Homo sapiens: one gene and its partner. The protein of the gene in region 1 purifies or fractionates together with the protein of each later gene. This does not show direct contact. Each region holds a gene or a part of one and is shown on either strand. Other genes may lie near its edges.

Region 1 (5,305 bases):
TAGTTTATTTTTTTGTAAGAATACAGTACATCATGCATATAAAATGTGTTAGTTGACATTATTAGTAATACAAAAATGGTTAATTGACTATTTATGTTATTGGTAAGGATTCTGGTCACCAGTAGGCTCTCAGTGGCTAAGTTTTGGGGGAGTCAAAAGTTATATGTGGATTTTTCACTGTGAAGGGATCAGTGCTCCCAACCTCTGCATTGTTCAAGGGTCAACTGTATATTATTTGTAATAGGCACATTACAAATTAATGTAATGCTTTACTTAAGTACAAACTACTATGGTCTATACGTTTTGAAAAAATGGAAAGTTTTGATTTGAAACTATTTAGATAATTTAGGTGGAATGTGTTTGGCCCTTAGATATTAATGGTTATTCTTCATTTTCTACATCCCTTTGGTCTTTCTTTTTTCTTCTTCTTTTATTTATATATACATTTTGCATTTAACGTGATGCTGGATGGCTCAACAAGTAGAATACATTCATTCTGGTCAGCTGAGCTATTTTTTCAAAAAAACCAAATCGCAAATTTCTGTTTTTTTTAATGGAACAAATGCAATTCAACATTCCAAAGTAAATTAAGTCCTCAATTTGTATTGGTGCTATTAGGTTCTTTTCTTGACTGGACTGAACTTAGTAGATTCTCTCAAATACAAAAAGGATTTTTAGATTACTTATTAAAGATATATCTATGCATAAGTGGTAAATCAGCATGCATATACCATACAGCAATATAGTATTAACAACCCATAGGCACTGATCTCAGACATCCCAAGTGCCTATGGGTTGTTAATAGTACTATTAACAGTGTCATAGTACTAGTACTAGTAATAGTACTAGTAATAGCAATAGTACTAGTACTAGCAATAGTACTATTATTATTTTAAAGGTAAATTTTATTTTAAAATAAAAATAGTAATAGTAATAGTACTATTATTAGTGTTAATAATACTAATAGTTAATACTAACAGTTAACACTAATAGTTAATACTATTGACAACCCATAGGCACTGATTTCAGACATCCCATGCATACCACTTACGCATAAGTAGTAAATCAGCATACATATACCATACAGCAATACAGTATTAACAACCCAGAGGCACTGATCTCAGACATCCCAAACAGGCTGATAATGCAAATGATTCTTTCAGAAACCATTGTATTTACCTTTTGAAGAAAATACCTAGATAGTGGAACTGAACACAAAGAATTATTAACTAGCTGAAATTACAGCCAGGGTTTGAGACAGAAAGTGTACATTCAGAATTCATTCTCTTAACCACAAAATTATGCTGCCAGAGAAAATCAGCAATGTTAAACAAGTAGAAGAATGTTACATGATAAAAATGCATTTTCAGTAGGCTGTTTACAGTAATTCCAATTCCAAGGTAAGGTTTTGCCTTTTTAAGTTGGACGGCTGTGAGTCTACCACTTGGTTATTATGTGTGGTGAGACTTCAGAATATGAAAAAATGCTTAAGCTTATGCTTTCATTTGCCACTATTAAAGAAAGAACAGTAGAGTAATTCCATAATAGTACTAGTTTACAATTACTTTTTTTGTGAATTAGTCATAGGAAACTTCAGAATTCTGTTATTTTCAGGGCTGAGGTTGAATTCATTTGCGCTTTAATATCAACTGCTGGTCTTTCTGCAGGCAGTCACTTTCAGGGTAGAATTACTGGGTTTCAGGGTAGCTTTTCACACTCTACACTATGGCCCTGGGGATGGGTTGACTACCAACAAAAGGTTGCTAAACTACTTTTTTGGGGCATGCTCAGAGTTATTGTCCCTTTAGGACTAAAGACGCACCCCCCACCCCCCCCCCCGCCCTTTGGTTGTAAATGTTGACTGACTTCATAAAAGACTCCAAACAGTTGAAACCACTCTTCCTTCTGCACTGAAGATGTTTGCATTGTTTGTTAAAATGGATTAATCAGATTTAAATTTTAAACACCATGTCCTAGAATTGTAACAAGCTAATTATTCCATTTAAAGTGCATAACAAACTAAACTTCCTGTTAAGTGGCATTTTTGATCCACCAATTATCTGGACAAATATACTGATGGTCAGTTTTCTCATATGTCCTGCTTTCAATTTACTTCATGATTCAATTAAACAGTTGTCAGTACATGACAAGAAAAATAAGCTCCCTGGTCCATAGTGGCCAAGACATATCATTAACATTGATATCTAATACACAAGTTATTGCACATTGAGATATCTTAATAGTTGGATAACATTCTTATTTTAAAACAATATGTGTGGATTGGAGATTTTGCAATCTAGGCACAAAAGATATCTTCTGATCCCTTCCGTTATTCAGAAAGTAATTAAAATCAACTAAATAGATTACAAAGACAAGAAGAGCAAAAAATTGTAATCTCCTGGTGAACATATTATGAATTGGAGCCAATTACTGGTATGCATTTCTATTACCCTTGGCCTTTGTAATCTGGAAGCTATAAACTTCAAAATGTTCAATTCAGCATATAAGTCATTATATTAGAAAATTCCATTTAAAAACCTATAGAAGTTAAAATGATTTAAATATAGACATAAAATAGTAAGCATGAAGGTGTTCAATATATTAATCCTGTAATCTAAAATATTATTTGGGCAATATTCTTAATCTCTTAAATATTGATTAAATGGATTTTACAGGAACAAGGTAATAAAATCATTTTTGAGCAGCGATTTCATAGTTGTGAATGAAAATATGATGCATTATAAAGTGCAAGTGACTCCAGCATCTTCAGAATGTGAACAGGCTCTTGTCCCCCATTGCCGAATTTTACATTCTTCAATAGATGATTCTCTCCCAAAACAAAACACTTCATTCAGCCATATTGGACCAGTACCTGCAATAATGAGGTATAACTGCATTAGTAAGTTTAGAGTTTAGTGTTTCTCTTTGAGTGGGGCAAAGCCATTAATTCCTTCACTAATTAAACAAAAAAGTGTTGATTATTTTCTGTATGCAAGTTCTGTGCTCTCTAGTAGGAATCAAAAATTAATCTCCTGCTTCAGAACACTTTATACTCTGTTAACATGTAAACTACTAAAATGCAAAGTAAGAAGAGCTCTAACAAAGTTACCTACACAGTTCTATAAAAGTAGAGATTAAGAATGTTTTTTTAAGGATTTGACAAATTAGTTTTATTATTAATCTAAAAATAAAGAAGAAAGTTTGAGCCTTAATAATCATGGGTACATGTAATAACCTGATGATCCAAGCGTATCTGTATGTCAAAGGGTCTTGGGGTATATTTGCACATAAAATAAACCGGAAAAAGGAAAACTTAATATCAGCATCTTCCTCCTTTTGTTATCTTCCCGTGTATTTCAATTTATGTGTGCCTGGTTTATCAAATACATTATCTGTTTTTAATTAAAGTAGAACTAATCTAATCAGCAAAGGGCCTACACACCATCCTGTAAGGAAATCATGGATTAAGAATGCTACTGATTGCAAACACAAACAAACAGCAAGAAAATGACAAAGCAAAGGTTTTCCTGAGCTGATCAATTGTAAGAGTGTTAACAGTAAGTTGGAGAGCCCAAGTATTTTTTGAGGTGTTTATAACAGTATTGAGGCTTTTTTACTTGAAATTTTAAGGCAGAAGAAGGAAAAGAAAAAAGGAATATGATCTCAAAATCAGAAACCTTGCCAGGGACACTTTTTAGTTCCCAAATTATCTTACTAGGCATGGCATGTTTCCTATTGTGTTTGTGATTGTATGTGTGAGCATGTTTGTATGTGTATACGTATTTGTATATCTGTGTTTCCTTATAAGTATATAAAGTCTATAAAAACTTTTTGAAAGCCTCAAAGGGCTACTTAAAAATACAGGCAAATAAAAACAATTGCACAAATAGTAAGACTATTCCCATGTTAATACAGGAGGAAGCCGAAGTACGAGACATTTATAAATTATATCTATTATATTTATTGTCATTTATAAATTGTATAAACAAACAGAAATTAAACTTTTGGTGAAAGCCATGGCTCTGTCATAATTTGGAGAGTGCGAGAATGGCTCCATGAATTGTGAACCCGGGCTACTGTGATGCTTTCGAATTGTATTTTGTAGGTCTACTCAGTGAATTTAGATTTCAGCAGTGCAGAATTTGTACAATCCAGGAAAAGGAAACTGAGAGTGGGAATTCTCCCAATGTCTACAGCACCAGCAAGGCCATCCCAACATGAATAGCAAAGGAAAGAAATTATTTAGTTGACTAATGTGCTGACATGTAAGCACATGTTTTTAGAAATTGCAGTAAGGGAATTCACGAATGTTAGAATACCAAGGTTGTGGTCCTGATAATGAAAATTTAAGTCCAGTCTTTTAAGAATTTCTTATGTGGCAGGAAACACTTATACATGTGATGTATTATTCCATGCAATCCTCAAATAACTTTCAAAAACTGAATGCCATTATTGTGTCATTTTACTGTTGAGGAAACTGAAAATCAGCAAGGATAAGGAACTGTACGTGCTCAAAGTCGCACAGGATTCTCACCCTGTATCCACCCTGAGCCACTGCCTTAAATCAATGACTTACTGCAACCTCCTTCATTATTAGACTTACTTATTTAGCAAATCTCCTTTGGTGCCTACACGAGTGAACAAGACCAAACTCCATACTCTTGTGGACTGACTTCCTGGGAGGGCTTATGTTCTAGGTAGATGAAGCAACTGAGATCACATATACAATCATGCCAGAGCAAATACTGGCATCTAGAGCCTCTGATTCTTATTCTGGTTATTTTTCCTCTGAGGACACATGGATGTGACAAATGTATTGTGGAATTTGGTATCTCTGTCTTTTGCTATGTGGAACAGTTTCAGACACAGTGAAAATTTTTTAAGTGCTTGTGTATAAGGTAATATGCTAGGTCTTTTCACATACATTTCTAAATTTACTTTTTATAATAACCTTGTTAAATAATGATAATTATCTCCATTTCATAGATACATAAACTGAGACTGAGAAAGGGTGTATGACTTTCTCAAATTTACAAAGAATAGATCCAGGCAACAGAACATGATGACACTTAAAGCTTAGTGATATTCATGGGTTACATAGATGTCTAGATAGAATTATAGAAGTAATTTCCAAAGATTTGTTGTTTTATTTTTATATTAATATATTCAAGACTATTGAGCCCAGGGGAAAAATTTATTTAATACACATTTTCCGTCTCATTCCAAATTGTTTTCTGCATTAAAAAGTTAATGCAGATAGTATAAAATTCATAAAATTTTATCCTTGTGTAAACCAATGAGATAA
Region 2 (7,034 bases), on another chromosome or scaffold:
GATGCTCTTTCTGTTTTTCTGGGGGTGGGTGGGAAAGGAAGTCACACTGACAGCTAAGTCTAAGCGGCACAATTTAGAGTTGGGTGAGTTCCCTTTCCTCCAGCGGCCTAGCTTGCTGGTCAGTGTAGAAGGGTACCCACAGTGAGTCGGGAAGGAAGGCCGAGGCTGGCGTCTGGTGGAAGGCAAGCTGCCTCTTGTCCTAAAGTGGGGACCCGCCCCTCACCTGGGGAGATGAGGCTGCCTTGACTACCTATTTGGTGATGAGACAGCTTGGTGATCACTTTCTCTAGACTCTGAGCCATGCTGTTCAACCTTAATGTGGCAATCAGTATCACATGGGCAGTGAACTGAAGAATTAGGTGTCTGGCTTAAAGTGTATCTTACACTCGTACACTAAGCTTGTGTATGTAGCACCACCCGCCTGTGGACTCTGCTCTGAAGGGCCCTCCCCATGAGTTTAAGTGTGAAGCTCAGGGTTTGGGGTGTGCACGGCCCCCCATATGGCTGCATGGTGCATGGACAGTGATGAGGAACGGTGCTGGTATGGGATGCCTGGGAGGGTTTTTCTGGAGACAAAAATTTACAGATTGAGGGCATGAGAACATAAACTTGAGGGAAACCACCATGATCTATACTAGGATGACAGATTGTGGAGTGGGAAGAAATCGTGTAGTCCAACTCTGCATTTTACATAAAATCAATCTGTGAAGAAAGCAGAAAGGACTCTTAGGGGATATCTTTTGAGAAAGGGTGTCCGCCTGGGATTCTAAGAGCTTCCCTGGTTGCTGGCCTAAATCAGGTGACCAGCCCTTTGTTTCTGACCAGGTTTCTCACCTGAGATAGAGAATCATTTGTTTCCAAATAGTTCAAATCCCCCCATCCACAGGCCTCCCCACAAGAGCCTGGCTGGGAAATTCAGGAGAATCAGATTGCCGAACCAATGTGTCCACACCCACCACTCCCCCGGGTGCCGTGGAAGTCTGCAACATCTGTTTCTCTGCCTTATCCTAAAGACAATATCTTCGCCCATTTTGTAAAATAAATAATTCAAAATATAATGAAAAAACTCTGGCAAGGATAGTTGCTGGCCTGAAAATGTGCTCTGTCTCTTAGCAGTGACTCACAGAACTCACACCTGCGGTGGGTTCCCAGGCTAAGGGGTGGAGCGGAGAGCGTGAAGCTCTGTAGCAGCGCGCAAACCCGGGACAGGGCAGGATGCACAGCCAGTCCTCACCCTTTATATATTACATTTATCTTTATAAATAGAGCATCCTGACTCGAGTGGCCATAATAAAAAAGCCAAACATTGAGTTTTTTCCCTCAAATACCTACACAAACTGTCAAATATCTACTAAATTATATCCACATGGCAAACTGGTCACCTCTATATGAGAACTCCAACTGCCATGATGGTCACAGGCCAAGTCTCAGTCGGACCCAAATACCCACCCCTACTGGATAACAGGGACTAAGATTTTTTTTTTTTAAAAAATCTACTTTTCAATAAGACTTGTGACAGAATCCTTTAAATAAAAAGCCAAATAAATATGATTTTAAGTGATTCCTGTCCCCCAAAAGTTGCACACACAAGTTTTCAATGTCATATAAAACGGACAAACTAGACCAATAAGTGTGGTCTAGTTGGCCTGGCTGCCTTGACTACATATTTGCTGATGTGACAGCTCGGTGATCACTTTCTCTTGAACAAGACTCTGAGCCATGTTGTTCAACCTTAATGTGGGAATCAGTATCACATGAGTAGTGAACTGAAGAATTAGGTGTCTGGATTACAGTTTATCTTAACAGTTTCCAAAAAACCTGTCTTTCAGCCGTCTTGGGAAATTTGGGTTGAATTTCCTTATTTCCTTCCATGGTCAAAAATATGTTAATTTCGATCTATCACACTAGATCACTTTGGTTAGATGACTGTGACCACTAAGAACAAAACAAAACAGAAAACTGGAGCAAACAGATGAATAGCCCTTTAGAAAAACCAGAGGATGTTGAACTGATGTGGGCCACACTCCCAGGGAGCCTTCATAGCTCATCCCTTGAAGGCACAGTGTCCAGGGAGGTTGGCGGTGGCAGGGCCTCTGTGTTCTTGGCATTGCTGTAGATGCGGCTTTGCTTCCGGGACTTCCAGGCATGTGTCCTATCCCAGTCGGTGGCCACTGTCTCATTGTCCCAGATGGTGGAGGTCTCCGTGTCACTCAGGTACCCCGGCTGGCCTGTGTAGTGCGTAGGGTAGATGAGCAAGGGTTCTGCAGAGAAGGCTTTCAGGTCCCTGGATTCATAATACTCCTTGTACTCGGCTCTGAAAACAAGAAGGTGGCCGGACACATGAGGGGGCGGAAAGGAGACTTACGGAACAGGGACAAAGAGTGAAGGAGGCCTCCTGGTTACCTCATGAGTTCATTTCATTATTTCAATTGTGTCATTTGTGAAAAACTTTAGCCTACAAACACAAATATTTCTTTAAAAGCTTTCCAAAGACAAGCTCCCAAGCAAAAAGATCAGGACATTTCTGACGTATTTGAATAGACTAGTTTAAAAGATGAATTTCAGGTCTGACTCCAAAAGTTAAAAAGTAAGCCCTGTTAGACCATAATGATAAATAAATACGATCACTTCACCAAAAATGCCCTGCTTTGGGATTAATAAATGAGACACCTCACATCTGGACAGCAGTGATGGGGCATGTGGCACGTGGAGGCTTAGAGGCACGCAGGCTTGGCTTTGTGCTCTAGCTCCCTGCTCACCACTCCGGTTCCAACAGGTGTAAAGGAGACGGATGACTTGGCCTCCCTCTCAGGGCTCCTGTGCAGAGTACATGAGGTGACATCTGAATGTAGTAATTTCCCTTTTGTTTAGGGGATAATGGTTTGACCTCCATGTTTCTGCTAGGACACAGAGATAAAGTCAGTCTCTGACATGTTATATACAAGAGGGCACACAACTCCATTTTTACTGAGGACAAGAGACAAAATGAACTGGTGGCAGCACAGGAAATCTCAACAGCTAAAATGAGACCATCTAGTGACGAGATCACCCAGCAACTGAGAGAAGGGGCCAAGGTTAGAACGAATGCTGCTCCATCAATGAATTTAGGAATCATTCATTAATGATTTAGGAGCTGCTGTTATGTGTAGCATTTGGACTAGGCTCTAAGGACACAGAGGCATAAGACTGTTACTGCCCCAAAGGGTTTATAGTTTATTGGGGAGATTGACAGGTAAATCATTAATTGCCACACCTTTTGATAAGCGCTAGGTCAGGGTAAGCTCCTGGGCTATGGGAGCCCCAAGCATCACACTGCCCTTCTTCCATGGACATCATGCTCAGGTATCAGGTCCACACTCCCTGAACCTCTTACACACCCCTGCGATTGCAGGAATCACAATATATCATGATGATTTGTTCATGAGTCTGGGTTCCTGACCAGATTGTGAGCTATGCAAAAATGGGTATCTCTGCTTAGCCAACAGTACCCAATGACCTGAGCCAAAGGAACTGGAAATTTTGAGGTGCTTAGGAAGATGGCCTTCACCTTGAGGTGTATGAGGTTATGGAAATAAGAAGAGCAAAGACAAGGAGGGGACCAAGCACATTACATTCAGTTCAACTACAAACTGGATATTACAAGAATCTCTGGGCAGGACACTCACCATCTCTGCCTCACCTTCCCATCTGTACAAAGGGATAAATCACCTGAGTTAGGCTCTCTTAATCATAATTATGAGAAGATCATTTAGGAAAGCAGTACAACTTTAGAAAATATCAAGTACTACCAGAAATGGAGAGCATAATTCATGAAGAGGCTGTGCCCAAGGGAAGGCAGGCAGTTCAGGGAGACTCACACGGGATGCTTGTTGTACATGACTGGCAGAAACTCATCCACTGGCAGCATCTTCCCAAAAGGATTGGCTCCAACCAGCTTCTGTGCTCCTTCCAGAGAGATGACGTAGCCCAGGGTCCAGTAGGAATAGTCGGCTTCGACCAGGTTTGCCACATTGGGCACTGCTTTCTCTGGCTCCTTTACTTGCATCCTCTTCCTACCAATATAACTGTAAGGAAATGGCAGAGGAGAAAAATTCCACCTTGACTATTATGCCATGATAAGGATGAAGCACAGCTTTGGTTTACATAGATACCTCTGAAATCCTGGACTGACTCTGTCTGTCATTAAATGATGTATCACATCCAAAAGTGGATCCAATCGCCAGTCAGGACTGCCATCTGCCATCACTGGGGCCATTTTGCTAGCTCCATTTATCAACACCCCCACTATTCCTGCCTAGTGGACGGTTTTCAAGACGGAAAGTAAGATGTCGTAAGATTAAAAGATCTTTCAGATCATTTCTTAAAGATGGGATGGGGCTTCCAGCTGTGTTTACAGAGGTTGGAAAGGCACAAAAAAAGGCCAGATGGGAGAATCCTGAGGCTGCTGTCTTCAGGTCCCCAGAGTGTCAGCCTTGGATGCCTTCTGCACAGCACTCCGAGTGCTGGTGGGAAACACAGGACCAAATAAGCTGGGGGAAAGAGTCAGTCTGCAGTGAAGGTTCTGGGAACCCAAGAGTGGCCCTAAGGGGTTCCTTTTGGGGAGGATGAATGACAGCTCCTGACAGGCATTCTCCTGCCTCACACTCGTCCAGCTGTGGCCAGGCTTCCTCCCAGACATGCTGCTCTGAGAAAGGCCCCCCAGGCACCTTCCGTCCTCCGTGAACAACTTCTACAACACAGGATGCACCTTTGGCCACTCCCATCTTCCCTAGTCTACCCATGGATCTGTGCTCCATTACTTTTGTCCGGAACCTATTGATTTGGGCTTGACTGGAGCAACCTGAGGAGTTGCCTCCTTCTTGCCTGCCAGGTAAAGCAGTACTTCCTCTATTTTGCCCTAAAACAATCTCTTTCAACATTCAAGGGATTCCCCCTTGTGAAAGCATCCCAGGATTTGTAGAACAAGTCTATGTTCAATCTTCAGTTCTTCTGAGAACAACAAACATATATCCCCAGCCACTCTCTCTTCAGATTACGGAGTCTGAGCTTCTCTCGTGTCTCATCCAGTGGAAGGGAAACTCTTATCGAGCACTTGAGAGGAACTAGAGTGATAGAGGTGCTGAGTTAATGCTCTAACTTTAATTAATTTAATTTTAAATGTTGAAGCTGTGTGAAATATATATATTTTTTCCATGAAACAAGTTCATTGTTTTGGTAGGACGACAGTTTACTTTTTTTTTTTTTTTATGGAGCCTTGCTCTGTCGCCCAGGCTGGAGTGCAGTGGTGCAATCTGAGCTCACTGTAAGCTCCGCCTCCTGGGTTCATGCCAGTCTCCTGCCTCAGCCTCCTGAGTAGCTGGGACTACAGGAGCCCGCCACCATGCCCGGCTAATTTTTTGTATTTTTACTAGAGACGTGGTTTCACCGTGTTAGCCAGGATGGTCTCGATCTCCTGACCTCGTGATCCACCCGCCTCGGCCTCCCAAAGTGCTGGGATTACAGGCGTGAGCCACTGCGCCCAGCCCAGTTTACTTAAACAGCTGAAAATTTAGCTTCTGGATTGAGAGGTGTTCTAAGTGTAAAATACATACCAGATTTTGAAGAGTTGGTACAAAAAAAAAAAGAAGGTAAACTATGTCATTAATGGTTTTAAAATATTAATTACATACCAAAATGATGATACTGTTTGGATATTTTTGTTAAATAAAATGTATTAAAACTAATTTAGTCTAATTTATTTTTACCTTTTTAATGTGATTACTAGAAAACTGAAAATGACATATGTGGCTTGCATTATATTTCTATTGAACAACACTCCCTCAATGATTCCAATGACTTGTTCTATTCTTCCCTTTTATTATTTTCTTTTCCTGGAAAGATGTAATGTGGCAATCATGAACAGCTTATTACCTTTCATGTTTTAGGTTTAAGTAACATTTGTTTCTTTTTTGTTTTAGAAAATAACAGGTACAATTTAAAACTGTTACAGTTCTTTAAGACTATATAATAGATTTTAAGGGGATATTTTGACTTGATCAACCTGTGAAATTTAGAAAACATTTTTTTCCTGTATCCTTATCAAGACAACTGTTCTTCCTTCTTGCATCTGTCGGTACTTTGTCCTGAGAAATGCACCCACCGAACTACATGTGAACGGGAACGTATGCCAGCTCTAAACCTTAGATTCTCTGGGCTCAGTCTTCTGTGATTATGAGGCTTAAGTGAAGTTGCCTTTATACAAGTCACGTGGACATCAAGTAGCTTCCAGGCCTGTGAGGCCTTAACCACAGGCTGCGGAGCCATCCATTGAGAAAGGCTGAAGTGCAGCGACTTCTGGAGGATATAGGAAGAAACAGTGATCTCAAGGGACTGTGCAGAATGCCAAACCAAACCACATGACCACATGACTGAAATCTGACAGGGCATAGGTGTCTTATTACACAGTGACGCATTAGTTGAGCCATTGCTAGGTTTCTTCTGAGCTCAGAGTGGCCCATTTTCTGAGGGAACAAGTATTCCACCTGGGCCCACAGTTAAATACCGCCTGTGGGTGGGAGAAGCAGGGACAGCTCCTCTGCTGCAGCTGCTCCAAAGAAGCAGGCTCAGAGTTGATGAATTGCCTTTGACACACAGCTGGGAGCAAACACAATGCTTGGGAACTTTCTGCTTCATTGGAGAGAAATTGAAAGTGTCATTTGTTTTAAAAAGAAAATGAGAGAGAGAAAGGAGGAGGCAGAGGAGGAAGAAGAAAAAGGAAAGAGGAAGGGAGAGAGGGAGAGGAAAAATGAAAGGGAAGGGAAGGAAAAATGAAAGGGAAGGGAAGAAAAAAGCAGAAGCCACTCAATTCCCAGAGAGTAGACAAAGAACATTAACTAAATGTCAGCTCAGAGCCAGCACTCCCTTGGTGAGCCTGGTTTTCCTGCATCAGCCTCAGACCCTTCCCCAAATCTAGTTGTCCATGTTCTTCATGTTTGTGCAGCCCCATTTCCCAACAGAGGAGCTCCCTGGCTGACCCTCTAACCTCCCACCTTCTC

The links. The genes of interacting proteins can lie anywhere in the genome.
Region 2: the proteins of MSR1 (region 1) and COLGALT2 purify together in Homo sapiens (affinity purification with mass spectrometry; 2 studies listed by BioGRID and IntAct, with this or other methods). This does not show direct contact.

Annotation. Positions count from the first base shown.
Region 1 is NC_000008.11:16,107,347-16,112,651, forward strand, and holds the end of MSR1 (macrophage scavenger receptor types I and II isoform type 1), read right to left. Parts: intron 2,873-5,305; coding exon 2,739-2,872; 3' UTR 535-2,738; downstream 1-534. UniProt on the Homo sapiens protein: Membrane glycoproteins implicated in the pathologic deposition of cholesterol in arterial walls during atherogenesis. Two types of receptor subunits exist.
Region 2 is NC_000001.11:183,936,724-183,943,757, forward strand, and holds part of COLGALT2 (procollagen galactosyltransferase 2), read right to left. Parts: intron 4,065-7,034; coding exon 3,858-4,064; intron 2,315-3,857; coding exon 2,038-2,314; 3' UTR 1-2,037. UniProt on the Homo sapiens protein: Beta-galactosyltransferase that transfers beta-galactose to hydroxylysine residues of collagen.